Linked DNA regions of Homo sapiens: regions 2 and 3 are each linked to region 1. The links come from fine-mapping of genetic effects on gene expression. A gene starts in region 1. Each other region holds a variant in brackets. All regions are shown on one strand. Distances are between the middles of the regions. Region 1 holds the start of DGAT1 (diacylglycerol O-acyltransferase 1). Region 2 overlaps MROH1 (maestro heat like repeat family member 1). Region 3 overlaps BOP1 (BOP1 ribosomal biogenesis factor).

What was found. PIP is the estimated chance that this variant, and not a neighbour inherited with it, causes the effect.
Region 2: its variant is fine-mapped to the expression of DGAT1 in whole blood (INTERVAL, PIP 0.96).
Region 3: its variant is fine-mapped to the expression of DGAT1 in whole blood (TOPMed, PIP above 0.99).

What each region holds. Positions count from the first base shown.
Region 1 is chr8:144,321,667-144,331,815 of GRCh38, reverse strand. DGAT1 (diacylglycerol O-acyltransferase 1) reads left to right here and starts at 4,964. Exons shown (of 17, transcript NM_012079.6): 1 at 4,964-5,379. The coding sequence starts at 5,180. SCRT1 (scratch family transcriptional repressor 1) reads left to right here. Exons shown (of 2, transcript NM_031309.6): 2 at 1-1,251. RefSeq lists silencers at 4,538-5,257, 5,268-5,337 and an enhancer at 7,829-7,888.
Region 2 is chr8:144,252,608-144,262,756 of GRCh38, reverse strand. MROH1 (maestro heat like repeat family member 1) reads right to left here. Exons shown (of 44, transcript NM_032450.3): 34 at 7,779-7,944; 35 at 7,052-7,248; 36 at 3,843-3,980; 37 at 3,403-3,517; 38 at 2,700-2,846; 39 at 2,383-2,571; 40 at 1,925-2,080; 41 at 1,716-1,850; 42 at 1,541-1,643; 43 at 1,408-1,473; 44 at 831-1,102. The coding sequence ends at 1,017. It overlaps BOP1 (BOP1 ribosomal biogenesis factor), which reads left to right. Exons shown (of 16, transcript NM_015201.5): 14 at 85-169; 15 at 254-361; 16 at 440-712. The coding sequence ends at 593. It overlaps MIR7112 (microRNA 7112), which reads left to right and starts at 20; the gene lies at 20-84. The variant AAAAGG/G (reference allele first, on the strand shown) is at 3,329.
Region 3 is chr8:144,274,711-144,284,859 of GRCh38, reverse strand. It overlaps BOP1 (BOP1 ribosomal biogenesis factor), which reads left to right. Exons shown (of 16, transcript NM_015201.5): 3 at 8,556-8,636. Among named protein-coding and RNA genes, the nearest start is that of BOP1, 12 kb to the left of the region's middle. RefSeq lists silencers at 7,003-7,052, 9,986-10,115 and an enhancer at 9,351-9,993. The variant C/T (reference allele first, on the strand shown) is at 4,677.

The DNA.
Region 1 (10,149 bases):
GCCTCTAGAGTTACTGAGAATCAGGTATCCCCTCGCCCTACCCACCCCATAGGCCCCTAGATCAGGGACGCTGCGCGGGGCCGGCCGCGCAGACTTTCTCCCCACCCCTCCCCGACCCCCACGGCAGAGCCCGGCGGCTGTAATGGTTCCATGGGCGGGGGTGGGGTGGTTGCCCCCAAGACCCCTCCTTCAGGCATTAATCATTCACTGACCGTTCATTGAGCACCTACTATGTGCCAGGCCAATTGCTGAGTCCGCCAGGAGCGCAGCCACCTGCTGGGAGGTGTGTTTGCAGGACAGGGGTCCAACCGGCTTGGGTGGGCCAGGGAAGAACGGCAGATGCAGAGAGACCAGGTCCCTAGGTTCACATGCCCCCTACACTCCTCCCCACCTCAACCAGTCCCTGCTGGGCACAACTGGGCTCTACCTTTGAGTTAGGCCTTTTGACTCCAGCTGAGGGGGACAGATCCAGGGCTCCTGGGCCCCCACACAGGTGGCCACTTCTCTGATCCTCTGGCCAACACACATCTGCCATGTCCAGCCAGGGGCAGAGCCATGGCTGGAGAAGAAGGTGCCAGCTGTAGCCTATGGTGTGGCCAGCCTCACCCCCAGCAGCAAGCGTGGCTGCCCCCACAAGGATGACCCACCGCTCTGCACAGCAGTGCCCACATCCAAACACCCTACACAACCAGGTGTGGTGCCTGCACAGCTCCCAAGCTGGGGCCTGCCCACCTGTGCCGCATGCACACGCACACACAGGCGCCCCCACCTCACCCCACCCCATACTCCTGTCTACCTACCTAAGGAGAAAGCTGGAGGGCTGTGGGCCCGTCAGGGTCTCCTGCTTCCCCCTACACCCCGCCGCCGTGGAAAGCCATGGGCCCCCTCCCGCCCCCATAACTAAGCAGCACAATAACCGACTTAGCGAATTCAGGTAGAAGGAACGTTTAGGTAGCACCTATTTTGTACTGATTCTACAAGTAGGGCCCGAGGTGCGGGGGCCCTCGGGTGGGGGCTGCGGCCGCCGGCCCGCCCGCCCCCACCCCCGCCTGTGCCCCGCCGCCTTGTACATATTCCCACCCGGAATAGGCCGGGATTTTTACTCGGGCCGTGCCCCTCTTCCGCCCCCATTTGGGGCCAGGCCGGCCGGACAGACGGACGGACGGACAGACCTCCTTCCTAAGCACAATAGCACCAGCTCCCCGGAGCACCGCACCTCCACAAGGAGAATAAATGCCACTCTTGATAGAATTTGGAGTGTCGGGCTGATGTGTCCTGGGCTGGGCCCACGCTGTTGGGTGGCTGGGAGGGTCTTCCCAGTCTGGCAGTACCTCAGAGGCTGGTGCTGCAAGGGTCAGCCTGAGGCCTTTCACAAGACGGCCCTCTTCTTCCACTGGGGAGGGCAGGCTTGGCAGGCCCAACCACAGGAGCATCAGGTCTGAAGGCAAAGTAGTTGGCATTTCCCCTGGGGTAGGTGGATCTGCTCCACACCAGGAACAGGAGCACTAAGGGGTTCCAGTCTAAAGTCAGGCCAAGCCCACGGTTGGACCAGAGTGGGCAGGGTAGGTATAGTAGGAGCTGCTGTTCCCCAGCCTGGGTGCCTTCGCTCTTCTCTCCCTGAAGGAGCTTTATGCTGTGATGGAAGGCCTGATAGCCACCTCAAGCCCTCTGAGATGCTGTTGCAGGAAATGGGGACAGTGGAGAGTTCGAGGTCTGGCCCTTTTCCTGTGGCCTGCTGCCCACATTCTGACCCCCAGGCTTCCCAGATATGCTCCCCCAGTGTCTGCGGATGCCTCCATGGATAGCTGGGTTGGACCGGTTCCAGGGAGGAGGTGCCCAGGGGGCAGAGAGGCTTCTGCAACCATCGCCCAAGGGCTCTAGACAGAATGAGTAGTGGAGGAGATAAGGGACAGGGACCCTTTGCCCAGCAATGTCCCCTGGTAACCAGGTAGGCAGGCATGAGCCGAGAGGCCCAAAGTCTTCGGGCACATACATTCAAACCAGGTCAGTCCTAGATCCAGGGCCAGCAAAGCTGCCCACACCCTAGCAGGGACAGGGGACAGACCTGCCCAGACTCCACTAGGGTGGAGAGCAGGGGAACCAGGTCTGCAGCATGTCATGGCCTGTGTGCCTGGCACTTGGAGGAGCTGTGGTGCAGGTGGGTGCTCTCTTTGGGAGAGCACTACCAGCAATGACAATGGCAGACAGCAATGGCCAGGAGGAAGGCTCCTAGCCTCACTCCTTCCAAAGGACTCCAACAGCGACTGGCTGTTTCTACTTCTCCAGGATTCTGATGCGTAGAGTGGGTGGAAGGATGGAGGTGGCCTCCCTGAGGCCTGGGATGAGCTCGACCCCCCAGTTCCTCCCAGCCACAGACACAAGTTTCCCTCTGAATGAGCAGCACAGGCCATAGACCACCACTGGCTGTGAACTCTCCTGGGACCCTTGCTTCTCACAGGCCTTCTTGGCCCACCCATGGCCCCTAGGCCCTGGGATCAGCCTGAGGCCCCAACCCACTTCCAGCCCTTTATTCCACTAGCCCTGGAAGGCAACTCGCTTCGGGCTTGGGCCCCCTCATTTGTTGCTGCCCCCAGCAGGGTGATCTGCATCATGCTTTCCTCGATGACCCAGCCATACACACCCTTGTCCCCAACCAACCTCACCTACCCTGACCATTCCCCTCACCCTAGATCCCAGGGTATAGGGCCTGTCTGGGCAGGGCTTCACCCACCTCTGGAGCTGCTGCCCCGCCACGCCCCCACCCCCGGTGGCAAAGCCCTTCCTTAATGGCCCGCCCACAGCCAGTGCTTTCCCCATTGGCTCCAAGCCTGGCTCTGCTCACCAGGCCCGACCCATCCTCCCTGGTGGTCCAGTCCACCCTCCCATTGTCTTTCTCCTGTGGCCACTTGCCGGCTTTGAGTTGGGACGCGACCACAGGTTGAGTCGTTGATCTCCTCTGCCTAGCATGAGGTGCTCCGTGGCCAGGTCCAGACCTCTCTGAGCTTGCTGTCAGTCCATACTCAGACAGGTCTGGGCCTACCTGGCCACAGAGTGTGTCTGCCAGCGACTGCATTCAACAAATGAATATTCTGAGAGACTGGGTAGGAGATGGGGCTGGTCCTGACCGACCAAGGCCCATGTGTGAGGGGCTCTTGGGTCCAGTGAGGGCGGCCCCACTCGGCAGGCTACACAAAGGGCATCTGCCAGGTAGCTCCAGCCTGCCTGATACCTGGTTGGCAGCAACCCACAGCGGCCTGTGGTGACAAGAATATGTCACCAGGGGGGCAACCAAGGGGGCAGCCCTGCTGGCCACTGTTGGTGGAGGTGGTGGAAGAGGACGGAGCTCAGAGGCGAGGCTGTGACCAGCCCACGGGAGAGGACCCCACCTCAGGAGGAGCACCTGTTTGCTTCCAGAGAAGTGCTGCTTGCCCCTGCTCACCCCAGAGGAATGAAGGTGTTTCTAGAGTCAGAGTCCTCAGTGAACCCTGGCATCCTGAGATCCAGGATGTTCTCACTCCATGCCCTGTGCAATATGCACACCAAGCCAAGGTGGGCCGCAACTGTGGCTGTTACAGTTGATTAGTTGCTTCATTTAACATACAAGATGTCTGGGGCAGTGGCTCATACCTGTAATCCCAGCACCTTCAGAGGCCGAGGTGGGAGGATTGCGTGAGGCCAGGAGTTCGAGACCAGCCTGGGCAGAATAGCGAGACCCCCATCTTTAGAAAAAATAACAACAGGCCAGGCGCGGTGGCTTGCGCCTATAATCCCAGCACTTTGGGAGGCCGAGGTGGGCGGATCACGAGGTCAGGAGATCGAGACCAGCCTGGCCAATATGGTGAAAGCCCGTCTCTACTAAAAACAGAAAAATTAGCTGGGCGTGGTGGCACGCGCCTGTAGTCCTGGCTACTCGGGAGGCTGAGGCAGGAGAATCGCTTGAACCCAGGAGGTGGAGGTTGCAGTGAGACGAGATCGCGCTACTGCACTCCAGCCTGGCGACAGAGTGAGACTGTCTCAAAAAAAGAAAAAAGAAAACAAAAAACAACAGGGCGGTTGCACAGGCCGTGCAAATGCACAGAAGCCTCTTGAGTCCCGGCGATCCAGCGGCCCAGACTTCTGACATCCTGGAGAGGCTGGCCCACGTTGGAAACTGGGAGGCCCTGAGAGTTGAGGGACGTGGAGCTCCTTGTGGAGAGAGTGGGTGGGCTGAGAAGACACCACCAAGGGGCCTGCGCCCTCGCCCTCGCCCTCGCCCTCCTCTCGCCGGGCTCTGCAGGCGGGGAGGTGGAGAGCCTGGGAGTCGCGTGCAAGGCAGGCGTCCCGGTGACGCAGGGCCTGGTGCATTTCTCCAGCTTGGTCTTCTGACCTGGCCCTTGTCTGACGTCCCCCTAAGGCGAAGAAAAGCAGGTTCCTGCCGGGGTAACCAGAGGGCTCGCGGAGCAGAAGCGCGCCAGGGACGTTACTGTAAGCTGCGTGCGCAGAAACCAACGCGCTGGGTGGCGGGCGACGCGAGCCGCCGCGGACACCGGCCCGGACAGCTGGACCGTGGCGCACTAGGCGCTTCCTAAATGATTGCCCGGAGTGACTCGCCGAGACCCCGTGTGTACACAAGTGGGACGAGGGGCGGGCGCACAGCGGCCAGGAAGTCGGGGCCCAGCGCACCCCTCAGCGGACCATCCCGCTCCGTGGGGCCGGACAGGACCCCGGGACCACGCGGGAGCGATGCAAGGTCCGTTCCCGCTGCGCGCACTTGCGGCCCGCAGCCCCGGCCCTGGGAGCTGCCACGGCTCCCAGGGTGCTCTGCGCCGGTGCGGCCGCGGCGACTACGACTCCCAGGGTGCTCTGCGCCGGCGCGCCCGCGGCGACTACGACTCCCAGGGTGCCCTGCGCCCCGTCAGCCTCTCCAGGCCCCGCCTCAGGTCGGCCGCGGACTACAAATGGACGAGAGAGGCGGCCGTCCATTAGTTAGCGGCTCCGGAGCAACGCAGCCGTTGTCCTTGAGGCCGACGGGCCCGACGCGGGCGGGTTGAACGCGCTGGTGAGGCGGTCACCCGGGCTACGGCGGCCGGCAGGGGGCAGTGGCGGCCGTTGTCTAGGGCCCGGAGGTGGGGCCGCGCGCCTCGGGCGCTACGAACCCGGCGGGCCCACGCTTGGCTGCGGCCGGGTGCGGGCTGAGGCCATGGGCGACCGCGGCAGCTCCCGGCGCCGGAGGACAGGGTCGCGGCCCTCGAGCCACGGCGGCGGCGGGCCTGCGGCGGCGGAAGAGGAGGTGCGGGACGCCGCTGCGGGCCCCGACGTGGGAGCCGCGGGGGACGCGCCAGCCCCGGCCCCCAACAAGGACGGAGACGCCGGCGTGGGCAGCGGCCACTGGGAGCTGAGGTAGCGGAGCGCCTGACCCCCTAACCTCTGACCCAAGGGCCCCGCGACTTTCCGGGGTTGGCCGAAGCGCGAGCTCCGAGTCCGAGAACATGGGCCCTGGGCTAAGCGGGGATCGGTGTGCCCTATGGGCCCTGTGGGGAAACTGAGGCTTGGGGAGAGTCACCTGACAAGGTCACTGGGTAGGGGCTCTGGAGCTGGCCTTGGCCAGGCAGAGGGGAGCCGGCAGGTGTCCCGCATCCAGATCCTCTTGGGTCTGTGCATCCTCAGGGGCTCCTGAGGAGCTTTTCGAGGGGCGGGCTGGTGGGGGCCCGGCCCTGGACAGTGTCCCCTTATATGGAAGGAGTCAGATAAGATCTGGGCAGTTTGTGGTGATAGGTTCCTTCTTGGTGCTATGAGCGGTGCCTTGCGGGTAGGAAAGGCTCCCAGAGGAGGGCTGGCCTGCCAGGGAGGGGGCCAGAGGAGCCCAGGCCTGTCCGAGGACAGGGGAATCAGCAGCTGCCCCGGACAAGGGGCAGTGTTAGAGGCGTTCTTGTCCTTGCAGACCCTTCTGAGAGTGGCTGCGTGGCCCATTCATTGCTCCAGTGGTTAGGCTGGCCTGGAGCCCTGCCGATGTTGCCAGAGCCAGCGTCTGTTGTAGGGACAGAGAGTTGGGTTCTGTGTTGGGACTTCCATCCTCCAGGTGGGGAGTGGGGTATGGGGGTGGTGGACACACCTGCAGGCGTGTGCCCTGCTCAGCTGGATGACTGACAGAGAGGGGTGGAGGGAGAGAACCATGGCCGATGGGAAGGACTTGGCCAGCCTGGGCATTGGCTTCCTCCACCAAGCTGGCCTTGAGCAATCCCCTTGCCACCCTCCATCCCCCCTTTATGGCCTTTACCCTGGCCCAGGGGCCCTCAGGGCTTTGTTTTAGAGAGCAGCTGAGGGCCTAGAGGTTATCAAGGCAGAAGTGGGCTGATTTTGGACATGTAGTTGGCAATGATTTGCTCTCTCAGTGAGCAAGAACAGAGCTTTCCTTCACGGGGCACCATGGGGAGGGGGTTGGGGGAGGGCAGGCACTGTCGTGGCCCTCAGGGTGCTCAGTTCATCTGGGAGATAAGATAACCTCAGCGAGAGTCAGGCATGGAGCAACATGGACAAAGGTCGGGCACGGAGGCCTTGAAGGGGCCGTGGGGAGGAGGGTGGCCCTCCTGAGAGGGGTGCTTGCCTGCTGTGGGCCTGGGGTGCTGGTGAGGGAGGCTGGCCTAGGCACCTCCTACCTGAAAAGGAGGTGTGGCTCCTGGAGTTACCCTCTCTCCAGGAGGCAGGGGGATGGCTACATGACCTGTGGAGGACGTGGGAATTGAGATTTCTTTTTTTTTCTTTTCTTTTTTTTTGAGACTAGTTTTGCTCTTGTTGCCCAGGCTGGAGTAAAATGGCACATTCTTGGCTCACTGCAACCTCTGCCTCCCAGGTTCAAGTGATTCTCCTGCCTCAGCCTCCAGAGTAGCTGGGATTAGAGGCGCCCACCACACCCGGCTAATTTTGTATTTTTAGTAGAGATGGGGTTTCTCCATGTTGGTCAGGCTGGTCTCGAACTCCTGAACTCAGGTGATCCACCTGCCTTGGCCTCCCAAAGTGCTGGGATTACAGGTGTGAGCCACCGCGCCCGGCCGGGAATTGAGATTTTTTTTAGTGTGAGATGAGGGTAGTCCCAGCTTTGGGCCAAGCCGCCACCTGGGGGTAGGCAGGGGAGAGCAGTCACCTTCTTGCTTTGCAAACCAGCAAGGCTTTCCTGTACTTCTGCTGGTGTGGGATGGGTGCAGAGCTCGTGGGAGAGGCCTGGTGAGTCCCTGTCCCTGCCGTGGAGGTCGGGTCTCCTTGGGAAGAGGGGCAGTAGATGGAGAGGTGAGGCCTTCATGGGGCTGGAGGCTGAGACCAAAAGTCTATCTGCTCCTGGGTCTCCAGGACTTGCAGGCTATGTGTGCTTGTCCCTCAGACCTAGGGATGCAGCAGGGCTCGGCCACTGGCTGTGGACACTGGGCTCTTCTCCCTGCTGTCTGCGTCAGGCCTTGCTCTGCCTGCCCTCCTGGGACTTGGCCTCTAGCGCACCCCCTTGTCAGCCTCACAGCCTCCCCTCCCTCCAGCTTCCTGCTGCTCTTGGCCCAGCCCAGCCTTTCCTCTCCCGCTTCCTCATTACTCCTTGAGCTCGGGCCTCCTCCCCTCACGGACACTTCCTGCTCACCTAGGGCTGGGCTCTGGGTGTGAGCTCCTTTCTTCCGGCCCCGTGGCAAGGTGAGGCTGTGAGGCAGGCAGGAGAGGGCACCCCTTTCTGCTCTGCTTGTGGCTCACTCCTGCCAGGCTCTTTGCACACACCCACCAGCCCTCTGCTCACAGGCACCCCAGTCGGGGCCATCCGGTTTCTGGCTTCTCCCAGGGTGTTTTGTCCCTGAGGTGTCCTTTCTGACTCTCCCTTTCTCTCTCCAGCAGGGTCTGCGAGGTGCAGGGAGCCTGCCCCAACCATCTTGAACCCAGGCCCAGCCCAGAGGCCAGAGTGGAGGAGGCGGCAGTGAGCAGAGCTGGACTCTGCCCCCTCCTCATTGTGCTTGGCCCTGGAGCTGCACTGTGTGGGCCCCAAGTGTGGGACTCACTGGGACCTGTGCCTTTGGGCACACTTTGAACCTGGAGACAGGGTGGCGGGTGGGCATGTGCCAAGGTCTCAGTGTTGCCGTGAGACTGAGAGGATCCTGCTGGCTGGGTGGGCCTGGGGGCTGCAGGAGGGAGGGCAGGCTGCTCCGAGTCTTCTTGGACTAGGGAGTGGGTGTAGGGACAGCTGGAAGGTGCAGAGGCTTGGGCAGATCCTCCAGTCAGTGAGAGGGTGATAAAGGTGCTCTAGGCACAGGGGCAGATCCCACCTCCCCATGCCGTTCCATGCAGCCTGCCCTGTAGCCCACATGCTGCTGGCCGCACTGACTGCTTGGAGCTCTGTGGGCACTGGTGGACTGGGGCTTCCTCCTCATGGGGGCCTGTGAGGGGTAGGGGTAGCGCAGTGGGGGTGCTGCCTCTGGGTGGGGCTGGTCAGGCCTGTGAAGGGCCTGAGGTGAGGCTGTGGCTGGGTTGAGGAAGGCCTTGGAAGCCTGTCAAGGGGCCCCTGAGAAAGCTTGTGTAGGATTGTCTGCAGTGAGCTTTGGGAAGCACCACCCTTTCCCGACTCCTGTTTTCATCTTGGAGATGGGCATGGATAAAGCCAGCATGGTGTCCTTGGTGGCTCAAAGGGGGCAGGGGTCATACTGCTGTGAAACAGCTGTGGTTGGTAGGTCGTGGTACAAGAAGGCCAACCCTGAGGCTTGGGATTGTTCTGCTGAAAACAAATGGGCTCGAACTTGGGGAAGAGGGGGCAGTGGAGAGGCCCCCAGACAGACAGCCCAGAGAGGCTGCTGGGCAGTTGGGCCTCGTGCCCCTGCTCCCGTCACGGTGCTGGGGCTCTGGCGGTGTCTACACCCAGCCTCCTGGTTGTGGGCAGGCAGTGAGTGGAGTAGGCTGGGGAGATGAGCCAAGGGCGGTGGTCAGTTGGGAAGACAGCTGCCAACTTGGGGAGGAGGGAGGCTCTGGTGGAGACCACAGCCTCACTGCATGGCCCAGGATGGACCTGGTGGGTGGATGCAGGGCGCTCAGGCTGGAGCTGGGAGAGGCAGGGGCTGGGTGGAGCTGCCTGCCCCTGTGTTCCAGTCTAGATGGGCAGAGGGAAAGGTGTGAGCATCCTCCCTGCCTGGGGGTCTTGGGGACTAGTGTAGACTTGTCCAGGAACTGTGTAGGTGTAGATGGGGCATGTGTTGCACCAACCTTGGTCTTGGGGAGCAAAGGTTGGGCTTGTTGGCATTGCCTCTCGGCCTCCCTGGCCCTTTGCCTCCTGGGCAGGGCCGTCTGACTGCCGACCCCAATCCTAGCCAGCTTGCCTTGGGTGCCCTGAGGGCGTCTGCCTCATGGGGCTCCTGCCATGGCTCTCAGGCCCACTCTCCCTGCCTAGGGGCTCTGAGGGGCAGATGTGCGTGTGCGGGAGGGAAAGGGAGGCTCTGGCCTCTCCTCTTACAAAGTTGAGGACTTGCTCAATGCTGTGTGTGGTGTCCCAGTGGCACGGCAGATGGGGGGTGAGGCGGGCCTGCAGCTAGTGTATATGAGCCAGCACTGCTTCCTAGGACGTGTGGGGGCCTGGCCAAGCTCTTGCTGTCCTTGTCCTAGCTATATGGCAGTCCCTCTATTGGGCTGGGTGCCCTCTTCCACCTGTGCAGTATGCTGAGGACCAGGCAGGGTCTGCCTGTGCCCCTCCAGCGCTGGTTGGGAGATCATGGGTGGGTGCCTGCCTCTGTTGGAAGCCTCTCAGCCAGCAGGCACCTAGCCCCGGGTGGGTTCCTTTCAGCCCCCTCAGCCTGGGCACACATCACAAACAAGTGGAGGCTACACCGGCACACGAGGGCTGGATCCCTGCCTCTGGGAAAGTGCATGTCAGGCTGGTGTGTGGCTGGCGCCTGGCCTGCCTTTGCCAGTTTGAGCCTGCACGTCCAAGTGTGGGGACCCCTTAGCTCCCGGGTGCTGGGATGGGCCAACTGAATAGGGTGGACTCAACCCTCACCACTTGGTCCCCACAGTGCTGGGCAGTGCCCCCTGGTCCATCCCCAGGTTGGACCCTGCTTGTGGCCCCAGTGCTAGTCCACAGCCAGAGTACATGGCAGTGGCCAGAGGCCTCTGGAGAGTGAGGCCTGGAGTGTCCAAGCTCCATGTAGGTCCAGTCCGGGC
Region 2 (10,149 bases), 69 kb after region 1:
CAGGTGAGGGGTGTAGGTGACGGGCAGGGCAGTGCACCCTGCAGGTGAGAGCGGGAACACCTGCATCACAGCCTTTGGCCCTAGGTGACAACGTCATCTGTGGGAGCTACGATAGCAAGCTGGTGTGGTTTGACCTGGATCTTTCCACCAAGCCATACAGGATGCTGAGGTGAGGAAAGCTGGGGGTGGAGGCGGCCAGCAGAGCCCCTCCCTTCAGCCCGAGCCTGCCTTCAACCTGGTTCCCTCCCCCCAGACACCACAAGAAGGCTCTGCGGGCTGTGGCCTTCCACCCGCGGTACCCACTCTTTGCGTCAGGCTCGGACGACGGCAGTGTCATCGTCTGCCATGGCATGGTGTACAAGTGAGTGCTGACCCTGCCTGGCCCCCTCCCCAGGGCAGTGGTGTCTGGCCGTGCCCTGAGCCCTCCTCGTCCCCACAGTGACCTTCTGCAGAACCCCTTGCTGGTGCCCGTCAAGGTGCTGAAGGGACACGTGCTGACCCGAGATCTGGGAGTGCTGGACGTCATCTTCCACCCCACCCAGCCGTGGGTCTTCTCCTCGGGGGCAGACGGGACTGTCCGCCTCTTCACCTAGCTGTTCTGCCTGCCTGGGGCTGGGGTGGTCGTGCTGAAGTCAACAGAGCCTTTACCCTGTGCTGCCTGGTGCTCCCACCTTCTTGAATTGGGGTTGCCAACAAAGCCGCCCCCACCACAGCGCCGAGCCTTCCCCTCACTCAATTTTGCAAAAACAGTGGGGACAACACAGCCAGTCCAGGGCACCCTCTGGCCCATCCCCTAAGAGGCTCAGCATCGCACCCTGTCAGTCACTCGCTGGGAGCAGATGAGTTTATTGGGCACATCCCTCACTGAAGGGCTTGGGTTTGGTCCCCAGCAGTGCCTGTTCTGGGGCCAGGCCCCTCCAGTCGTGTGCCCAGGCTGTGGTCCTCAGGAGGCCCTGTCTTGGAGCTCAGGCACAGGTCTGGGTGCATACTCCTCGCTGGGGGTGCTGGCCGGAGCCTTAGGCGAGCTTCACCAGGCGGCCCAGGGCCTCAGCAGCCCTCGTCCGCACCTCGGGGGCCGGGTCCTTCAGCAGGATCTGGAGCGCTGGGGGTAGAGGAGGGGGGCTGCCTGCGGGCTGTGACCTCGGCATGCCCATGCCTGCGCGTGGGCCACGCTCTCCTGACAGCCTCTGCTGGGAGGCTCAGGAGCCAACGGAAAGATCGTTTTTCCTTTTTTAGTGTTTTTTAAGCTCTTTTGGAACAGTTAAGAAGTTTCCGTGAATTACTAGAGACGATGAGGTCACCAGTGACAGGGAAAAAGTCCTGAAATCCAGGAAAATCACTTAGTCCCTGCGGGTGCCTACAGGGTCAGCAGGGCCCAGCGGAGGGGCCCCGTGGAGGGGTGCTCACCCGCAATGAGCTGGTCCAGGTCCACCTGCGGCTGCTGCCTGGGCTCCGAGTGCAGCACCAGGAACCCTGTGAAGTGGGGGCATCAGGCGGGGCTGCCGGGCGGCGTGGGGGTGGGGCAGGGGGTGGTGCTTACCGGTGAACAGGGGTGCAGCAGCTCGGACGTTCTCCCAGCTGCTCTTGAAGTAGAACAGGCAGGTGGTCAGGAGACGGCCCAGCAGGTCTGGGAAATGGTGCATCTGGGGAGAGGCCTGGTCAGTGCCGCCTGGCCCCGCCCCACCCACCACGCCCCGCCTGGCCCCACCCCTCACCAGGTGCTTGCAGGTGGTGTTGAGGAACTCCCCGAAGTGCAGGGCTCGGCCCTCCTGCAGGTGTTTCTGGAAAGCAGCTGAGAGCTCCTCACATGCCAGATTGGGGCCACACATGCGCAGGGCAAACCTGCAGGCCTAAGGGATGCGGCACTGGGGCCAAGTCCAGTTGAGGCCACCCACCCCATCCCACTCACCCCCTGGCTACTCACGCTGGCCACGGTGGCCTGAGGGTCCTGCAGGTGCAGCAGCAGGGGCGCCAGCCCGCCCACCACCTGGTCCAGGAAGACGTCCTCACAGTCTCCGTGGCAGACCTTGTTAAGGTGCCCAAAGAGGCGGATAGATGCCGTCCGGAACTCCATCTTCTCCTGGGAAGGACATGCAGCATACGTCTCCTCACAGGCTGTGCCCCTGCAGGCCTGCCTGCCTAGCCCCCTGCCATTGATGGGTGCCCTTGCCTGACCCGGGCCAGGAAACACCCCGACGGGTGGGGGCCTTACGGGTGGGGGCTGCCAGGCCCAGCAAAGCAGCAGCCCTGCAGGTCCGCGCTCTCCACGGTCACCTAGCCGAGGTGGGAGACAGGGAGGAGGGTGGGGCTGGGGCTAAAGCTCAGAGTAAGAGGCAGGAAGGGCTGGGGCCCTCTTCCCTCCCCCTGCCCCAACCAGCCTACACTGTCGAAGAAAGGCCGGATGCGGATGGCCACGTGCAGCAGCCCTGAGCGCAGGTCCCAGGACTCCACCAGGTGCACCAGCCTCGCAAGGCCCAGCATGGCCTCCAGGGCCACTGGGCTGTGAGGGTTGTCCCCGTCGTCCAGCCCGCCAATCATGGCTGTGAGGAGCTGGGGGCCGTGGGTTCGCACCTGAGGATACCTTACACTCAGCCTGGGTCCCAGAGTCACCGTCTGCTACCCCACAAGACAGGGTGGCCTCCATGCACAGCCCCCCACCCATGCTGCCTGGGACCCAGAGGGGCTGGTGGCCACCCCACCTTGTCAGGGCAGCCGGAGGCCAGGTTGGCCAGGCCGCGGAGCACCAGCCTCCGCACGCTGGCGCATGTGTCCTTCTGGCGAGCCGCCAGGCTCTCCAGCAGCGAGTCCAAGAGCATGAGGTCGTTGGCCACGTTGCTGTTCAGCAGCTGCAGGCAGAGGTGCTGTGACTTCCCTCTCCCCGCTGACCCCAGGGCTCAACCCACCAGCCCAGGCCCAGAACACCAGAGGCTGTCCCCACGCCGGTGTGGCAGACAGAGGTGGAGCACCTACTCCCTGGGTCTCCGATCAGTGGCGACCCCTCCCTGTTGTGCCGCTGGGGCCTGCTCTGACGCCCGCTGTGCTCTGCTGCACGGCCTTGGGCAAGATTTTGGCATCTTTGGCCACGAAGGCCAAGACCACACCACCAAGGGCACCTGGGGTCCCAGGGGCCAGCCCTGTCCAGCTACAAATGTACCCAGCTGGACTTGGGGAGAGTACAGGCTGCAGGGAGCCTCGGTCCTCCTCTCACCAGGCACAGAGGGGGTGTCCCTGGGTGGGACTGAGTGAGTTCTGGCATGGGGGAGGAGGTAGCTAGCATCCACATAACCTCCCTCACAGACCACGGTCGAGGGGGCCTTTTAGGGGTAAG[AAAAGG/G]GCATCCCGTGCCTGTCCTGAGCAGGAGCCCCACCTTGGTGCCCAGCATCCGTCCCTGGAAGGGCCTACCTCGGCCAGGAAGGCGGTGGTGGTCACCCTCTGGTTCTCATACGCACTGCTGTGTGTGCATGCCAGCGTCTTCAGCACCAGGGGGAGTCGGGGCCCTGCGTGCTCAGCCATGGCCCTGGGAAAGGGGGCCGCTGAGGGTGCAGGGGCTGTTGCTGTGCTGAACCCTACCCAGGCACCTTCCACCCTGCACAGCCCTGGTCCGCTCCACCGCCAGCTGCCAGGTTCTGGGAGTTCTATGTTTCAGAGATGCCTCCCAGCTTGCCTCGCCAGGCCTCTGCAGGGGTGCCTCCCTACCCCTGCCCCAGAGAGTGAACAGGCAGGAGCCCAGGGCACCATTGGCCTGACACGCATGGGCCCCCGCCTGATCCTGTCATGTTCTGGGCTCGAGATCCGGTGGAGCCCAGCCAGTGCTGGAGCTGCAGTGGGCTGGGCCCGCTCACCTGGCCAACCTGGTGGCCCCCTCCTCATGCCCCGCCGAGGTCCTGAGCAGTTCCCAGCCTCCCTCCAGGTCCATGCGCTGTACCACATCCTCGCTGCCGCTGCGGAGTAGCATGGACCGCAGGGTGTCCACTGCAGAGCTGCAGGATTGCCAGGGTGCTCAGCTGGTAGGGCACACACGCCTACCTCCCTTCCTGATTAACTCCTCAGGTCTGCACCCAATGCGTGTTGCCCACCTGGTGGCTAGCCCTATCCCTGCCAGAGCCACTCTCCAGGAAGCAGGCTCTGGGCCATCTGCTAGAGGCCCCCCATTTCCCCACCCAAGGCAAGGACGCAGATGTTGGCTTGGAGGTGAGCTAGTAGCAAGGTCAGCCTGTGGCCACCTGGCCACCAGCCTGAGAGCTGGACACAGGCAAAGCCCTCTGGCTGCACCGGCCTTCCTTTCCGGACACCCAGACGCTGCTGGGCACCCACACCACAGGTGCCCCCCACCCCGGGCCTGTTCCTGCCTGGCACCTCGGGTTCTCACACCTGTACCCCAGGAGACTCCACAGCCCTCTGGGAGGCGAGCAGGCCCCTGATCCACTCCCAGTGTCGGCTGAGGCTGGCTGGCAAGTGAGCGGGAGGATGGTGCCGAGAGCTGGAGGGGCTGCTGGCGTGCTGAAGAGCAGGCGCCCTGGGCGTGCAATGGGGGCCACCTTGGCCAACTCTCTGACTCCCCAGACCTCCACCAGGCAAGCACCTTGCCCTCTGGTCTCCCTGGCAGTGGCTGGGCCAGAAACTGGCAGGGAGAGTCTGATGTTGAAGCCTCTACAGGGCCCAGCTTGAGCCTGGCATCGACCATCGGCTCAGATGAGCCCTTCCCTGCTGAGGCTGCTCCACTCCTGGCTGCCAGTGGGTGGGGCGTAGTGTGTGACCCAACAGGCACGGTCTGGGGCAGAGGATGCCCTGCACCAGCGTCCCCACCCAGCAGGACCCTCCATTTCAACTCCACAGCCCCTGCCATGTGGCTTTCCGCTGCCCTCGAGCACCTCACACTTAGGCCCCCGCCGCCTTTGGACCTCTGTCCCCACAAGGCTTCGTCCTCAGGAGCACCTGGCCCAAAAGCAGACAACCCCCGAGCGGCACGGGCCGTGTGGTGACCGCTGGTGGTGGTGACAGTGCCACTGCCCTGGTCACCTCCTGCCAGGTGTCCCACAGGGCCCCTGGTGTGCTGCGACGTGGAGTGGGCCTAGCAGGGAACAAGTGGCCCCGCCAAGCTGGGGGCCAGGCCCTACTCGCCTGGATGGTGTGTGAGGCCCTCATGCAGGTGGGATCTAGGAGGAGGGTGTGGTGGGCACAGGAGCATGAGACAAGCTTGTTAGAGATCTGGTGATGGGCCCCATGAGGCTTCTGGACGGTTGGGTACACAGGGCTGGTGATGCCGGCAGGAATGAGGCGGCCTGAGAGCTGGACAGGGGCTGTAGGAGCTGAGGGCCACGGGGGTCTCGGCAGCCCAGGAAGGAGGTGCTGGGGGCCTGCTCCCAGTATACCACTGTCCCCATGGGGTGTGCCTGGGTGGTCTGGTGCTGACCAACAGCAGGGCCAGCCCCTCACACAGCCCTTGATGAGTGTCCCCAGGCTCCTCTCTCTCACGGGTTCCCTCCCCAAGGTCGGACGTACGAGAAGGCAGCTCTGGAAAAGCCTGGAGTCCCATGGTTCCAGTGTTGGGGCCTGATCTTTGAGCCCAGGTAGCCTGGGTGCCAAGGGGGCTTCCAGCCCTGGGAACAGGACAGCCAGCACTGACCACAGGCAGAGGACAGAGCCACACCAGTCACTGCAGTTCCTGGGAGATGCCCTTGACACATACAGGCCAGGCCAGCCGCAGGCGGAGGGAGGACCCACCGGGCCACAGTCAGTTCAGCTGGGCCTCATGGTCTGAGCCAGGGCCTCATGGTCTGAGCCAGGGCCCAGCTTGAGTGCAGCTCTGCCTCCAGCTCCACACCCTGCTCCAGGCCTCGAGCCCTGCAAGGCCCCATCTGGACCAGGGGCTGCGCTCCAGGCTGCAAATGGCGCAGGCACAGCAACTCACAACCAGCTTCGACAAATCTAACGGGAAGCGTGTGTTTGGCTCACGAATGTGTTAGTGATTTGGATGAGGGTGCCTCCCTTGTTTGTGTGCCCAGGACATTTAAGAATGTGGCACCCACAAGGGTCCGACCCACTGGCGAACGGCCTGTACACCAGGCTCTGCAATCGTCCCAGTGAAGGGGCACCTGGGGGTGGGCGTGGGGCCCGCAGCCCTACAGCTCGGGGCGGAGGCACTGATTCGCAGCAGGCCAGGCCCAGGGGCTGGTGGCTGCCCCATCCCATTCACATTTTCCACTCAGTTTGCTAGGGGCAGAGCAGCGCTGGCAGCCGGCCCCACTGGGCTTTACGAGCTGGCCTGGGTCTGAGCAGCCTGTGGTGCTGGGGCAGGGGGAGGGGGCTGAAGTGCGGCTGTCCCCCTGGTGTGTCCTGGCCAAGGGGGGCAGGGGGAGGGGCTGAAGTGAGGCTGTCCCCCTGGTGTGTCCTGGCCAAGGTGCACACCCAAACCTGGGCGCCTGGGTGGGATGGAACCAGAGCCCTCCTGGGCAGGTGCGGCATGGCAGCCCTGCGTTCACATGGGCTCGTGGTCCTGGGGTCAGGCCACACAGCCACGCCTGCCCAGGGTGTCAGCCTCCTCTGTCTGTGCTATGGCCCCAGGCAGGTGTGTAGGACCTGGAATGCTTCATGTCAGGCACCTGGGCAGCTCTTACGTGTGGGGCTGTGAACACGTGCCAAAGGCCGCTCTGCTGGGGCAGTTTCAGGGACAAAGCTGGTCCTGCCATGGTTGACCCCAGCCTATACCCCAAAGACTCCACACAACTCCACTCCCAGGAGAAGGCACCACCCGGATCCTGCCTGAGCTGCCACACGAAGCCCCCACCAGCTGCCTGTGTTCAGCACCACCGTGCAGACCGCCCGCAGAGGCGAGGAGGGAGGCCTTCACAGCCAGTGTGAGAAGGGTGGCCATGGATGTCACCACTGACAGCTCAGCCCTGCACCTGGGTGAGGCGCCAGCTCCCTGGAAGCAAAGTCACTCCCACACTCCCCGTGGTTCAGATCTGCCGTCCGCCCCCACCACGCGCGTGCACACGCATGCCTGTGCTTCCGAATCAGTACTGGAGGTGGGAAGTGGGGACCCAGATACCTGCAGGGTTCCAGGTTCCTGGTGGCTAGGGCTGGACTGGCACCCCTCCTTTCCTGGGCCTGCAGGTTCCGGGGCAGCTGGACACCCACGGTGCAGCTGACGCGCAGCAGAAGCACCACAAACAGCTGGGGGTAGAGCTCGAGCACCGCGGGCCCCGCTGCAGGCGTGGACATGACCTCAAACAGTGCACAGGTAGCCTGGGGGAGAAGTCATCACAGGGCCATGCCTCCCTCCAGGCCGCAGGAGATCTGAGCCCTGCACCCAATGAGACTGCATCCCCCTTCGCCTGCATCATGTGCTCGGAGGTCTCAGATCCCAGCTGCAGCGCAGGAAGGGCGAGGCGCACCACTGCATGGCTTGGCCCTCAGGGGTAGAGGCAGGAGACAGGGACAGAGGGGCAGTCAGCCTTCACAGGACAGACCTCAGGCCATCTGTTCTCAGCTCCTCAGAAAGGAGGAGGAGGGAATTCTCACAGCTGCTTTACTGCTTAAAACACTGCCAAGCTGGGTTTATTTTTTTTCCGCAGGATAAAACATGAAGTGGCCTCCCCTGGGGGCCCACACCTGTGAGGCCTTTACGAGCCTGAGCTCAGAGCTCCCAGCCCGGTGCTGCCTCCAGGTGCCTGTGGGGTGGCGTCCGGGCCACCTCATCAAAAGGCCTGCCCCCGGGCACCCAGGCAAGCGGGGCAGGGACAGCGTGTCAAGGTGGCCCCGAGAGCCCGACTCACCGAGAGAGGCAGCAGCGTGGCCACGCGGTCTGGGGTGCGGCCCAGCAGGAAGGCCCGGCTCTCCTTGAAAGGGACGTCCCTACTCATCTTCTCCAGCAGCAGCCCCAGGACCTGGGCAGCTAGGCGAGGCTCCACCGCCAGCGCCCGCCACAGCATGCAGGTGTGGCTGGAGCAGAGCAGGAGAGTCACTTTGAGGCCGTGGCTGGTCAGGGCGCCTGCCCCCCGCCACCTGGGTGCCGTGGACCCTGGCTCCACGACGCTCAGACACAGCCACCAGGCTCAGCTGCAGCCAGCTGGGAAATGGCCTCTTGGCCTCAGATCTGAGCTCACCCCTTCCCCTGACTCCAGGGATCTGTAAACAGAGCTGGTAATAAAGGACACAGAGAAAAATCTGGGCCTATACACACAGGGCCCAGGGCAGTGGTGTGGGAGGTCCCTGGGGAGCTACTGGGAGGGAGAACAAATCTTCCCTGGAGGAAGCAGCATCTGGCCCAGGCCTCAGGACGTCACAGGGTCAAAGAGCGCAGCTCCCAGGGAGACCTGGCAGTGCTGCCAAGAACACTCAGATGGCACCGCAGACGCACCGTGAGGCAGCTACGCTCAGCGTTTGCAGAAATGAACAACAAACTCTGAATATGACGGGAACTGAAAATTCTAAAAACAGATACAGCAAATTTGAAAGAAAACCAAACAGCTCTTTTAGAAATGAAACACTAATGTACTCAGTGGACATATTTGGTGCCAGTCTAGATACAGTAGAAGAGAGAAACAGTAAATAGGAAGATTAAGAACTTACCCAGTGAATAGGAAGATAAAAAAATTTCAGATAAATTATTACAGAGAATAACGTGGGAAGGCAGAGGACAGAATAAGGGACGCGGAAGATGGAATGAGGGCTAACGTACATTTGATGGATGTCCCAGAGGCAGAGGAAACAATGGCTGTCAAGGAGTAGGTTGGGGTTTTCAGAACTGGTGAAATATACTGACCTACAGACAGGGAGCCCTGAAGCCGCCTGGCAGAACAAAGGAAAAGCAACCCCCACCTGCAAACTACAGATGAGCAACAAGCAGGCAGTGGCTTCCTGGACAGATGCGGTGCTAGGAGACTTCACCTGGCTCTCAGGAGCAACGACAGAAGCCAGAAACAGTGATGTGCTGTCACACACCTGAGCAAACTCCACTGAACTAGGATACTAAGCCACGGAAAGAACAGTCACAAGGGATGGCCAAATAAAGACATTCTCAAGTAAACAAAGGCGGACAGTGTGTCACTGATCCTTGTGGTGGGAATTCCAGGAGCGTCCTTCAAGCAGAAGGCAAGCAGCAGAGGGCTGGGCGTGAGTGTGGGGAGCAAATGACCTGGCAGGAAACGTGGACAAATGCACAGGAGGGCAGGCACACAGCACGCGCCAGCAAGGACGCGGTGGCCGTCGCTGAGGCGCCAGGAGGCCACAGACTCAGCCACTGTGGGCCCCCATGAGGCTGCATACAACAGCCAAGCCAACCTGTGCCCAGGGAAGGGCTGGCAAGCTTCTGACCAGGACAGACAATGGCTCAGGCCTTGGGGGCCGGGTGGCCTCTGGCAGCTCATCAAGCCTGCCGCTGTAGTGCGAGAGCAGCCACAGACAGCGTGGAAGTGGACGGAGCGGCTGCTTCCGGAAGCTTTAACTCATGGACACTGGAATCAGGATTTCCTATCATTTTCACGTGTCATGAAATATTCTTTTTGTCTTTTTCTGACCATTTATGAATGTAGAACCCATCCTTAGCTCACGGGGTGGCAGGGTAGAGATGGCCACAGTGACTCCACTTCTTTTTTTTTTGAGACAGAGTCTTGCTCTGTTGCCCAGGCTGGAGTGCAACGGCGCGATCTCAGCTCACTGCAACCTCCACCTCCCAGGTTCAAGCGATTCTCCTGCCTTGGCCTCCTGAGTAGCTGGGATTACAGACACGTGCTGCCACGCCTAGCTAATTCATATATATATATATATATATATGAAATAAATTTTATTTATTTTTTGAGACGGAGTTTCGCTCTCGTTGCCCAGGCTGGAGTGCAATGGCCCAATCATGGCTCACTGCATCTTCCGCCTCCTGGGTTCAAGTGATTCTCCTGCCTCAGCCTCCCGAGTAGCTGTGATTACAGGCAGGCACCACCACGCCTGGCTAATTTTGTATTTTTAGTAGAGATGAAGTTTCACCACGTTGGTCAGGCTGGTCTCGAACTCCCAACCTCAGGTGGTCCACCTCCCAAAGTGTCGGGATTATAGGCGTGAGCCACCGTGCCTGGCCAATTTTTTTTTTTTTTGAGACAGAGTTCTTGCTCTGTCGCCCAGGCTGGAGTGCAGTGGTGCAATCTCAACTCACTG
Region 3 (10,149 bases), 47 kb after region 1:
GCCGGGCCACAGGCTTCCCTCTGGCTTTCTGCCCTCAGGCCTTTAGCATTGACATGCACACGACCCTGCCTCCTTTCTAAGGACTGTGTAGAATTACGTGGCATTCAGTGAGCAGCTGCACGTGGTGTTCTAGGGCACCTTTGGATGCTCAGGTGCTCCTGAGGGGTGTGCCAGGGAACGAGTCTCCTACCCTTCCCTCCTGGCTCCTGTTGCTGCATCCAGGCAACTACTGTTTCCAGTGCTGAAGTCTCTTTCCAGGATGTTCTAGACATATCCAAACTCGCACAGAGTTTTTGAATGGTGGTTTCTTAAGAGAAGGGGCAGCCGTGCGCTGTCTCAGGATGGTTCTGTCAGGGAGGCCATGGCTCTGGTTTGTACAGTGCTTGGTGCCCGTAGAGTGCCTGGCAGCTCGGCCTCAACAGCTCCAGTGGGTGGGCAGTTGCAGGCTTTTGCTCTTACAGTTGACCTGACAGTAACATGCTGTTTCTCACATGTGCACACCATTCTTGGGGAAAATTCCAAGAGAATTTCTAGGTCAAAGGATAAATGCTTTTTTTTGTTTGAGACAGGGTCTCACTCTGTCACTCAGGCTGGAGGGCAGTGGTGCGATGTTGGCTCACCAAAATCTCAACTTCCTGGGCTCAAGGGATCCTCCTACCTCAGCCTCCCTGGTAGCTGGGACTACAGGGTCCCCGCCACCATGCCTGGCTAGTTTTGTTTTGTTTTGTTTTGTTTTGTTTTTTGAGACAGAGTCTCGCTCTGTCGCCCAGGCTGGAGTACGGTGGTGCAATCTCGGCTCACTGCAACCTCCACCTCCTGGGTTCAAGTGATTCTCCCGCCTCAGCCTCCTGAGTAGCCGGGATTACAGGCGCCCGTCATCACGCCCGGCTAATGTCTGTATTTTTAGGAGAGACGGGTTTCACCATGTTGGCTGAGCTGGTCTCGAACTCCTGACCTCAGGTAATCCACCTGTCTTGGCCTCCTGAAGTGCTGGGATGACAGGCGTGAGCCGCCGCACCTGGCCATCAATGCATTTAATTGTGAAGGTGCTTGGAGCGTCCCTCCGCTAGGCGGTGATGCCATGCACTACTGCAGCCGCCCCTCAGCTGCTTTCCCACCACCAGCCTCCCTCATGGTGTTGCTGCTTCATCTTTTCCTCTTGTTTAGTGATGTTTTTCTTTCATTAAGAATGAGGCTCGCACAGCTGGGCTTAACTGAAAAAATAAAAATAAAAAGAATGAGTCACAGGCTGGGCCCAGTGGCTCACACCTGTAATCCCAGCACTTTGGGAGGCCAAGGCAGGTGGATCTCTTGAGCCCAGGAGTTCAAGACCAGCCTGTGCCATATAATGAGACCCCATTTTTACAGAAAATTTAAAAAATGAGCCAGGCATGGCGGTGCGTGCCCGTGGTCCCAGTCCCGGAAGCCCTTCTGTCTCTTCCCTGTGGCGGCATCATCCATGCACTTAGCTGGCTGGAAACCCTCATGGCTGTTGCCCAAGGGCAGGACAGCTAGCTGGTTCTTGTCATTTTGGTCTGAGCTCCCTGGGCCAGGAGCCCTTTGCTGTTTTCTCTCTGTTTGTTTGTTTTGTTATCTGGCACCACAACAAACTGCCCCAAACCATGGAGCCTTTCTTTTTTTTTTTTTTTTTTTTTTTTGAGATGGAGTTTTTTTGCTCTTATCGCCCAGGCTGGAGTGCAGTGGCACAATCTCGGCTCACTGCAACTTCTGCCTCCTGGGTTCAAGCGATTCTCGTGCCTCAACCTCCTGAGTAGCTGGGATTACAGATGCCAGCCACCACGCTCGGGTAATTTTTTTTTTTTTTGTATTTTTAGTAGAGAGGGAGTGTCACCATGTTGGCCAGGCTGGTCTTGAACTCCTGACCTCAGGTAATCCACCTGCCTTGGCCTCCCAAAGTGCTGGGATTACAGGCGTGAGCCACCGCACCTGGCCACCATAGTGCCTTTCAACAACGAGCATTTGCTGTCTGTGTTTCTGGGGTCAGGAGTCCTGGTGTTTTGTGAGGTGCACTCAAGGAGCAGGGTCTGGCTGTGCCCTTTGCAGCTCCTCCCCTGACTGTTGGCATGAGGAGCTCAGGAGTGAAGGTGAAGAAGGGTACTCTGTGTCTGGGGGGTGGTCAGAGGATAGGGATGAGGACAGGGACAGGGCCCAAGAAGATGGGGTGGGTGCTGTACCTCCCCCTTCCTTCCCTGGGGTATCTGTGGGCCACGGCAGGGCCCACAGCTGTTGCTAGTAGCCTCCTTGGGGCCAGTGGGTTTGATTTATTTTTGTGTTTGTGTGGTTTGAGGGCAGGCATCCCTTCCCCACCCTTTGCGTCCCTGCTACAGTGACCCCTCTTTCTGGGTCCACCTGCTCTGGCACGAGCTTGGTGGGCCAGCCTCACCCCAGGGCCCACCCCATCTCCAGCCTCCCTGCCTTGGGCCTGGCAGTCCTGCCTCTTAATTGCGTTCTGTGCCACCTGATGACCCACGAGTTCTGTCTCCTGGCCTGGTTCCTACTCCCTGGGACTTTCTGCAGCCCCTGCCCTTCCAGCTGTTGACTGTGTCTGCGAGCCATCCCACTGGAGGGGCGCCCTGGGCTGTGTGCTCCCTGCCCTGCAGCACCCCTGACACGGGTGCTCCCAGCCCTCCACTGACCAGCCAGGGAGGAAGCTGCCTCCTGCCGGCCTGTGCCTCGCTTCCTGTCCCCTCTCCAGCAGCACACGGCAGCGCGGGCCGCGGGCTCACCGGAGCGAGGACTGGTTGCAGGGCCTTCTCTTTATCGCTGGTGTCTAGTGGATCTGTGGGGTCCGTGCGCTCAGAGCTGTTTTTTCCTTTCTGTGCTCATTTAGATTCATTTTTTTCCCAGCTTTGCTTGGTTTTGTCTTTTCATTTATGTGAGTTTTTCTTTTTATTATTTTGTGCAGAAGTTTCTGTTTTTATCAGTTAATCTGCTTGTCACAGTCAAGAATGTGAGAAAAGACTGGATGCGGTGAGCCAAACCTGTAATCCCAGCACTTTGGGAGGCCAAGGTGGGCGGATCACTTGAGGAGTTCGAGACCAGCCCGGCCAACATGGTGAAACCTCATGTGAATTGCTTGAGCCTGGGAGGCGGAAGTTAGAGTAAGCTGAGATCATGCCACTGCCTCCATCCTGGGTGACAGAGTGAGTGGGACTCTGTCTTGAAAGAAAAAAGCACTAGTAAGAGAAGGCCTAAGACCTAGTATTAAAGTAAGAGAAGGCCTAAGACCTGGTATTAAAGTGAGAGAAGGCCAAAGACCTGGTATGAAAGTGAGGGAAGGCCGAAGACCTGGTATTAAACTGAGGGAAGGCCGAAGACCTGGTATTAAACTGAGGGAAGGCCAAAGACCTGGTATGAAAGTGAGAGAAGGCCGAAGACCTGGTATTAAACTGAGAGAAGGCCAAAGACCTGGTATGAAAGTGAGAGAAGGCCGAAGACCTGGTATTAAACTGAGGGAAGGCCGAAGACCTGGTATTAAACTGAGGGAAGGCCGAAGACCTGGTATTAAACTGAGAGAAGGCCAAAGACCTGGTATGAAAGTGAGGGAAGGCCGAAGACCTGGTATTAAACTGAGGGAAGGCCGAAGACCTGGTATTAAACTGAGGGAAGGCCGAAGACCTGGTATTAAACTGAGAGAAGGCCAAAGACCTGGTATGAAAGTGAGGGAAGGCCGAAGACCTGGTATTAAACTGAGAGAAGGCCTAAGACCTGGTATTAAACTGAGAGAAGGCCGAAGACCTGGTATTAAAGTGAGAGAAGGCCGAAGACCTGGTATGAAAGTGAGAGAAGGCCTAAGACCTGGTATTAAAGTGAGAGAAGGCCGAAGACCTGGTATGAAAGTGAGAGAAGGCCGAAGACCTGGTATTAAAGTGAGAGAAGGCCAAAGACCTGGTATTAAACTGAGAGAAGGCCTAAGACCTGGTATGAAAGTGAGAGAAGGCCGAAGACCTGGTATTAAAGTGATGATTCCAGATTTTTTTTTTTTTCTGAGACAAGAGTCTGTCTGTCACCCGGGCTGGAGTGCAATAGCCTGATCTCAGCTCACTGCAGTCTCCACCCCCCAGATTCAAGCAGTTCTTTCTCCTGCCTCAGCCTCCCGCTGTGATTACAGGTGAGCGCCACCAAGCCCAGCTAATTTTTTGTATTTTTAGTAGAGACAGGGTTTTCCATGTAGGCCAGTCTGGTCTCGAACTCTTAACCTCAACTGATCCGCCTGCCTCGGTCTCCCAAAGTGCTGGGATGACAGGTGTGAGCCACTGGGCCCGGCCTTCCCAGATAATTTAAGGAGAGTTTGGCCTGTGCCGGAGCATAATGCACACTCTTGGGCAGGGGATCCCGCCAGCGTCTCAGCGAAGGCTCTGGGAATGGCAGGTGGCAGGCCGCGTTGCTGCAGCGTGGGAACCCTGGGCTCGGGCCCCCTGTCGCTGTGGTTCTGGGGTCTGGGTGCTGGTGCCGTCTGCTGGAGAGTGGTCTGGAGCTGCAGCTCTGTGGAGTCTGGAAAGGGGCTGCCCAGTGATTCTCACCAGCTGGTCAGTGGTGGAGAAGTTGCCTGGGTGTGGACCACAGAGCTGGGGATGGAACCAGGGGCCAGGGCTGGTGGTAAACTCCGCTCTTGCCTCTGCCTGTGGCCTTGCTTTGGGTTCTTTTGAAGACTG[C/T]CAGCTCCAAGCTTCTTGGCCCCCATGGGGGAGTCAGGCAGCTGTTCTGCCACCTGCCCTGACACTTTGCAGCATCAAACAGATATTTTGTAGCATTCTGGATTCGAGGGGTCAGAGTTCAGGCCGAAAGCAGCAGGGTCAGTACACCCTGAGTACAGTGTCATGCTGAGGGGCCGGGGAGCCCCAGAGGGTTCTGGTACATTCCACCTGAGGAAGATCGACACTCAGCTCACATCCTGTGCTCTGGGACTTGGGTGAGGATCTCAGGTGAGCACAGCCGGGCCTCTTGTGTGTCCAGACCGCCCCTGACAGCCATGTTCACGAAGGGTACCCCTGTCCAGCTGTCCCCTCTCCCAGGGCTCAGGGCTGCAAGGACGTGGTCTCCTGTGCCAGGCAGAGCCACACGGCCTTCACGACCTCAGCCCAGAATCCTGTGGTGTCAGTGTGGGCTGCCTCCCTTGGGTGGGTAAAGCAGCCACAAGCCCACCCAGATTTGCGGCGGGGGGGACATAGACTCTGTCTCTTGATGCGATGAAAATCAAAGGTTTGTGGCCGTGTTTTAAAATGGTCACAGTCACCCTTACGCTTGCCAAATAGTCTCTTCCCCCAGCGCTCCCCAGAACCTCATTCCACTGCCAGGGTCTCATCTAAACCAGGCCTGATAGATGGGGGTCCTTGGGCCCCTCTCTGCACAGCTGTCTGCAGTGGGGCACCGAGTCACAGTGCTGTGGAGTGGTCTCTGGTCTGTGGTGGTCCTAAGGTGGCTGAGCACATGGCTGGTGGTGGTCTTGGCCATGGTGGTCTTGGCCCGTGGTGGTCTTGGGGCCTGTGGTGGTCGTGGCCCATGGTGGTTGTGGCCTGTGATCGTCAGGGCCCATGGTGGTATAGGGGACCTGTGGCAGTTGTGGCCTGTGGTGATCGTGGGGCCCATGGTGGTCTTAGGGCCTGTGGCGGTCGTGGCACGCAGTGGTCTTGGGGCCTGTCCTTGAGACCCATGATGGTCTTGAGACCCGTGGTGGTCGTGGCCTGTGGTGGTCTTGAGGCCCATGGGGGTCATGGCCCATGGCGGTCGTGGCCCGTGACGGTCATGGCCCTTGGTGGTCATGGCCCGTGGTGGTCTTGGGGCCTCTGGTGGCAGCACACATGGCCAGTGCCTCATGCAGGGTTGGCCTCCATGCCTGGGAACGACCCTGCCACTCTTGGGCTCCTGCCCCGAGTTACCTTCCTTTTCCCTGAGTAAAAAGGGATGTTTTTCGGCTGTATTTTCTCTGGGCTTTTCAGTTCCTGCTGATGTACTTTCTTTAAAACAAAATGTGGGTTTCCTAGGTACCTGTTGATGAGTCGTTGCTGTCACACGAGCCATCGGCACAGAGCTCTTGGATAGCAGCCTGTCTCTGTGCTGGGCACCCTGCGGCTAGCGTGGGCAGGGCCCTAGGGAGCCTTGGCCGTGCTGAGGTGCTGGGTGTGGGGTCTGTGGTGCAGCGCTGGGTTGTCTTGGTGTCCTTGGCACCCCGACAGCGATGTTCTGGCTCTGGTCTCTGGGCAAGTTAGGACTGCTTCCCTCCTGCTGTCCACGTCTCCAGCAGAACCCTCTTGTGGGCAGCCCTGGGAGCAGAGTTCTCTTCCCACCGAACCGGGACACCGCAGCTCTGTCGCCATCCTCTCCCAGGAGGTGAGGGCAGAGCCCGTGTCTCATGCCTGGTTGGTGGCAGTGGGGCACGGCCTGGCTGGCCTGATGCTGGGGAGGGGAGGCTCTGGTGTGGTCACAATAGGGGGCTCATGCGCTTGGACACCGTTTCTGTCTGGCTGAGCCCACTGTGGGTTTCTCCCTTTGGTCCTCATGGTGACATTCTAGCCCTGGGGCTGGGCAGAGGCCACGCAGGGTTCAGGGACTACAGCAGCCTTTCCTTGGCCCCAGCGGCCCCGCATCCTGCTGGCACCTCGTCCTTGCGCTCCCCCTCGGCGGCTCCCTGCCCACCCGTCGGTCCTTCAGACCCGCCTGCCTCTGCCCAGTGGCGCTCGCCCGCCCACTCTCTCAGCTTTTACTTCACCCTCACGCAACTCTCGTGCTCCATCGGGCCCGACCCCTCCTCAGTCAGGCCACGCACACTGCGGGTGGTGCTGGAGACCCTGGAGAATCCGGGCTGACTCCAGGCATGGGCGTGGCGGGAGGGGGTCCTGTCCCCAGGAGTCCGGAGCGTGGCGTGGGCTCATGTTCCGTTGTCTGTGTCGTTAGGGTTTTGGTGGCCTTTTCCTCTAATTTTTAAGTTAAAAAAAATACGTTCAATGCCCCACAGCATCTGCCTCCAAAATCTGAAGGGGCCTTCTAGGTCAGGCAGTTCCCAGCAGTGGCCGCCCCTGCCCGCACCGCCCCTGCCCGCACCGCCCCTGCCCTTCGGGCGCTGGGCCTGGCTGAGCGCCGTCGCCCCCTGGTGGACTCTGTGCCCCACAGCTGTCCCACGGGGATGCTGCGCCCCTGGGAACCCAGCACCTTCGAAGGCCACCTCTGCCCCCTGCCCAGAGCCTGCCTGTGCCGTGGCCTGTCCACATCCAGCACAGGGGCCACGGGGCACAGAGCGCTGGGTGACAAGTCTTTTGTCACCTGCCAGGACCCTGGGACTGCGGCCCATGAGCAGCGAGGCTGGGACTCCAGCGTGCGGTGCTTCAGCCCCGGCCACTGTGAGGGGTCGGGAGCCCAGCCCGGTACCCGTCCGCAGAGGCCAGGCGGGGGCAGCCGACCGCAGCCGGGTGTGGAACTGCCCTTGTGCGCGTCTGGGGCTTGGGGCCGGGGTCACGGATCTGCTGCGGCTGTGGGGGCTCATGTGCTCCAGGCAGGGGCAAGAGCTCCGTGTCACTGAGCGCCCCAGGCCACTGTCAGCAGCAGGGGGAGACGTGGAAACTGAATCCTTCCTTGTTCCTGGCCTGGGAAAAAACTTAGTCTCCCATCTCTCTTTATATTGAAGGAAAAAACAGGCAGGGGAGGAGCCCGGGCCGGAGAGAAGAGGGGCTCGGGGTGGGGGCGGGGGCGTGCCCGCCTTCGCTCTGGGGTTCCTGCGCCCGAGCACTTTACTGCCCCCACGGGTGAGAGGTGGGCCTGTTTTCCCCATCAGCCTTGGTTCCGCCAGTAAACCCGATCCGGTTGGAGCCATCCTCACCTCCGCAGTCGAGGGCAGAATCTGTTTTCCAGGTTGGGATGTGAATTCTCAGTGGCGCCCACTCTGTGACCCGGCGGGATGGGGTCAGCCTGGGCTGTGGACGTGGTGGGTGGGAGAACGCTGGGCAGGCCTTCTGAGTGTTCGGGGCCCTCTCTGGGCCCTCTGCTGGCTGGACTGGGCGGGACGTGGCCCCCGGGATGGGTGGACAATGTGTGTCCCCCGCCCCTTCAAGAGCATTGGCCCCAGTGACCCTGCTGCGACGGCTGCGTCTCCTTCTTCCCCCCGACCATGCTGCCCCCGTCCCAGGCGGGGCTCGGCAGGAGCGCCATGTGGGGCCCCTGGGAGGAGTCCTGTGGCTTTGACATGAATGGGGGTACGGGTGGTTGGCGGTGGGTCTTGGTCCTCAGCTGGCGGCTTTGCTCCTGACTGCCCCAGTGGCTTCCGTGTCTAGCCTGACACCCGTGTCAGCCCAGGGACAGAGGCCCCGGGAGGCTGCAGTCCAGCCCTCACAGAGGACAGGGCCGTGGGCAGGACCTGCGGCGCCGGGTGCCAGCCACAGCCCCCAGAGGCCCCCTTAGAGCTGGGTGTTCTCGGCCTTGTGCTGAGGCCTGTGCCAGGCTGGAGCTGCTCAGAGATTTCGGGGTGGTGGGCTTCCTGGGATCCCCCCAAGGTCAAAGGGTACCCTGTATCCCCTGAAGTGACCATTTTCTCTCTCTCTCTGCAGGCCAGCACTCCTTGCCCGAGGACAGAGATGGCGAGCGCCCGGATTGGGGATGAGTATGCGGAGGACAGCTCTGATGAGGAGGTAGGACTGGGGCTGCTTCCCACTGGGCAGGGTGGGGCGGCTTCCATCACAGCCTAGCAGGTGCTGGGGGTTGGGGCTGGGGTTGCCCTGGGGGTGCTGGGACCTGCCGCAGGTGGGCCGCACTGTTGGAGCCGAGGCCCACGTGGGCGTCCTGCTTCCCCATCTGCAAGAGCAATTTCGGGGTCTGGGACACAAGACTGCAATGTATGTGTGTCATCATGGCTTGTGAAGGGGAAGGACCTGGGTGTGGCTCCATGCCCCTGTGTCTGGCCTGTGGACGGGCTCTGGGGGCTCCTGTGGCGTCTGCAGGGTGGCTGTGGGCTCCCTGGGCGTGGCGTGCATGGTCTGGGTGGGGGTCATGGTCGGGGTGGGGGTCACGGGCATGGGTGGTGCCCCTGTCGTGTGTGCTGTGGGGTGGGCCACAGGTTGGCTGGGGGCCAGGCGGGCAGAACAGGGCCAGGGCCACCTCCTAATGTCCTGATGTTCTGGGCAGTGGTGGCCCTTCCCTTCCCCTGGGGTCCCCCTGCCCCCCACCCCTGGTGGTGGCTGATGTGGGCTGGGGCCGTTGCCTCTGGACCTCTGACTGAGTCCCAGGAGCACATCTCAGGAGGGGCAGGAGGTCGGCTGTTTCTCATAAGGAGCTTGCAGGCGAAGGGGGATGCGTGCTGCTGGGCTGGGCTCCACCAGCGTGGAGAGGCTGGCACCGGGCTGGGCTCCGCCAGCGTGGAGAGGCTGGCACCGGGCTGGGCTCCGCCAGCGTGGAGAGGCTGGCACCGGGCTGGGTTCCGCCGGCGTGGAGAGGCTGGCACTGGGCTGTGTCCAAGAGCAGATTTGGCTGCGGGGGGCTGCCCTCATTTGGGAGGGGCTGGAAGCTCTGAGAAGCTCTGAAGCCAGAGGCAGTGCCTGCCTATACCCTCCTCAGTGTGGCCTGGCCCCAGGGTAGGACTGTGGTCCCAGTGGAGCACCTGGGTGTGAGGCAGAGTCTCCTTTGGGCCCTGGGGGCTGTGGGGGAAGGAGAAGGCTTTGGTGTAGGGCCTTCCTGAAGGAGCTCTTCCTGCCTGCCTGTCAGGAACTGTCCCCGGGGGGCCTGGGGGAGACACGCGCCCCCCTCCCCCCAGGTTCTTCCCCCATCCTTCGGCTCTCTTGGCTGTGGCTGCAGGAGCCTTGGCCGCCCGCCCGATCCGGTCTCTGCTGCGCGTTCAGAGAACAGAGACAAAACAAAATAAATTGGTTTCCTGGCCGGAGCAGCGGGCTCACTCAGAGCGGGGGGGCCACGCCGCGCACTCCCTGCCTGTCTCCCCTCCCCCTCCCAGGGGCTCTGGCTGTCGGCAGCCACATCCTGTCGGCTACTTTTTTATATTTGGTATTTTGAGAAATCGATGATGATTGTAAACGGAGCGCGGAGGCCGGGGGAGGGGCCTCGGCGGGGCCTGTGGGACCCTGCTGCCCCTGGGGGTGCTTTGCCAGGCCTGTCCAGTGCCACCGCCGCCTGCCGGGTGGGCAGCCCCCTGCT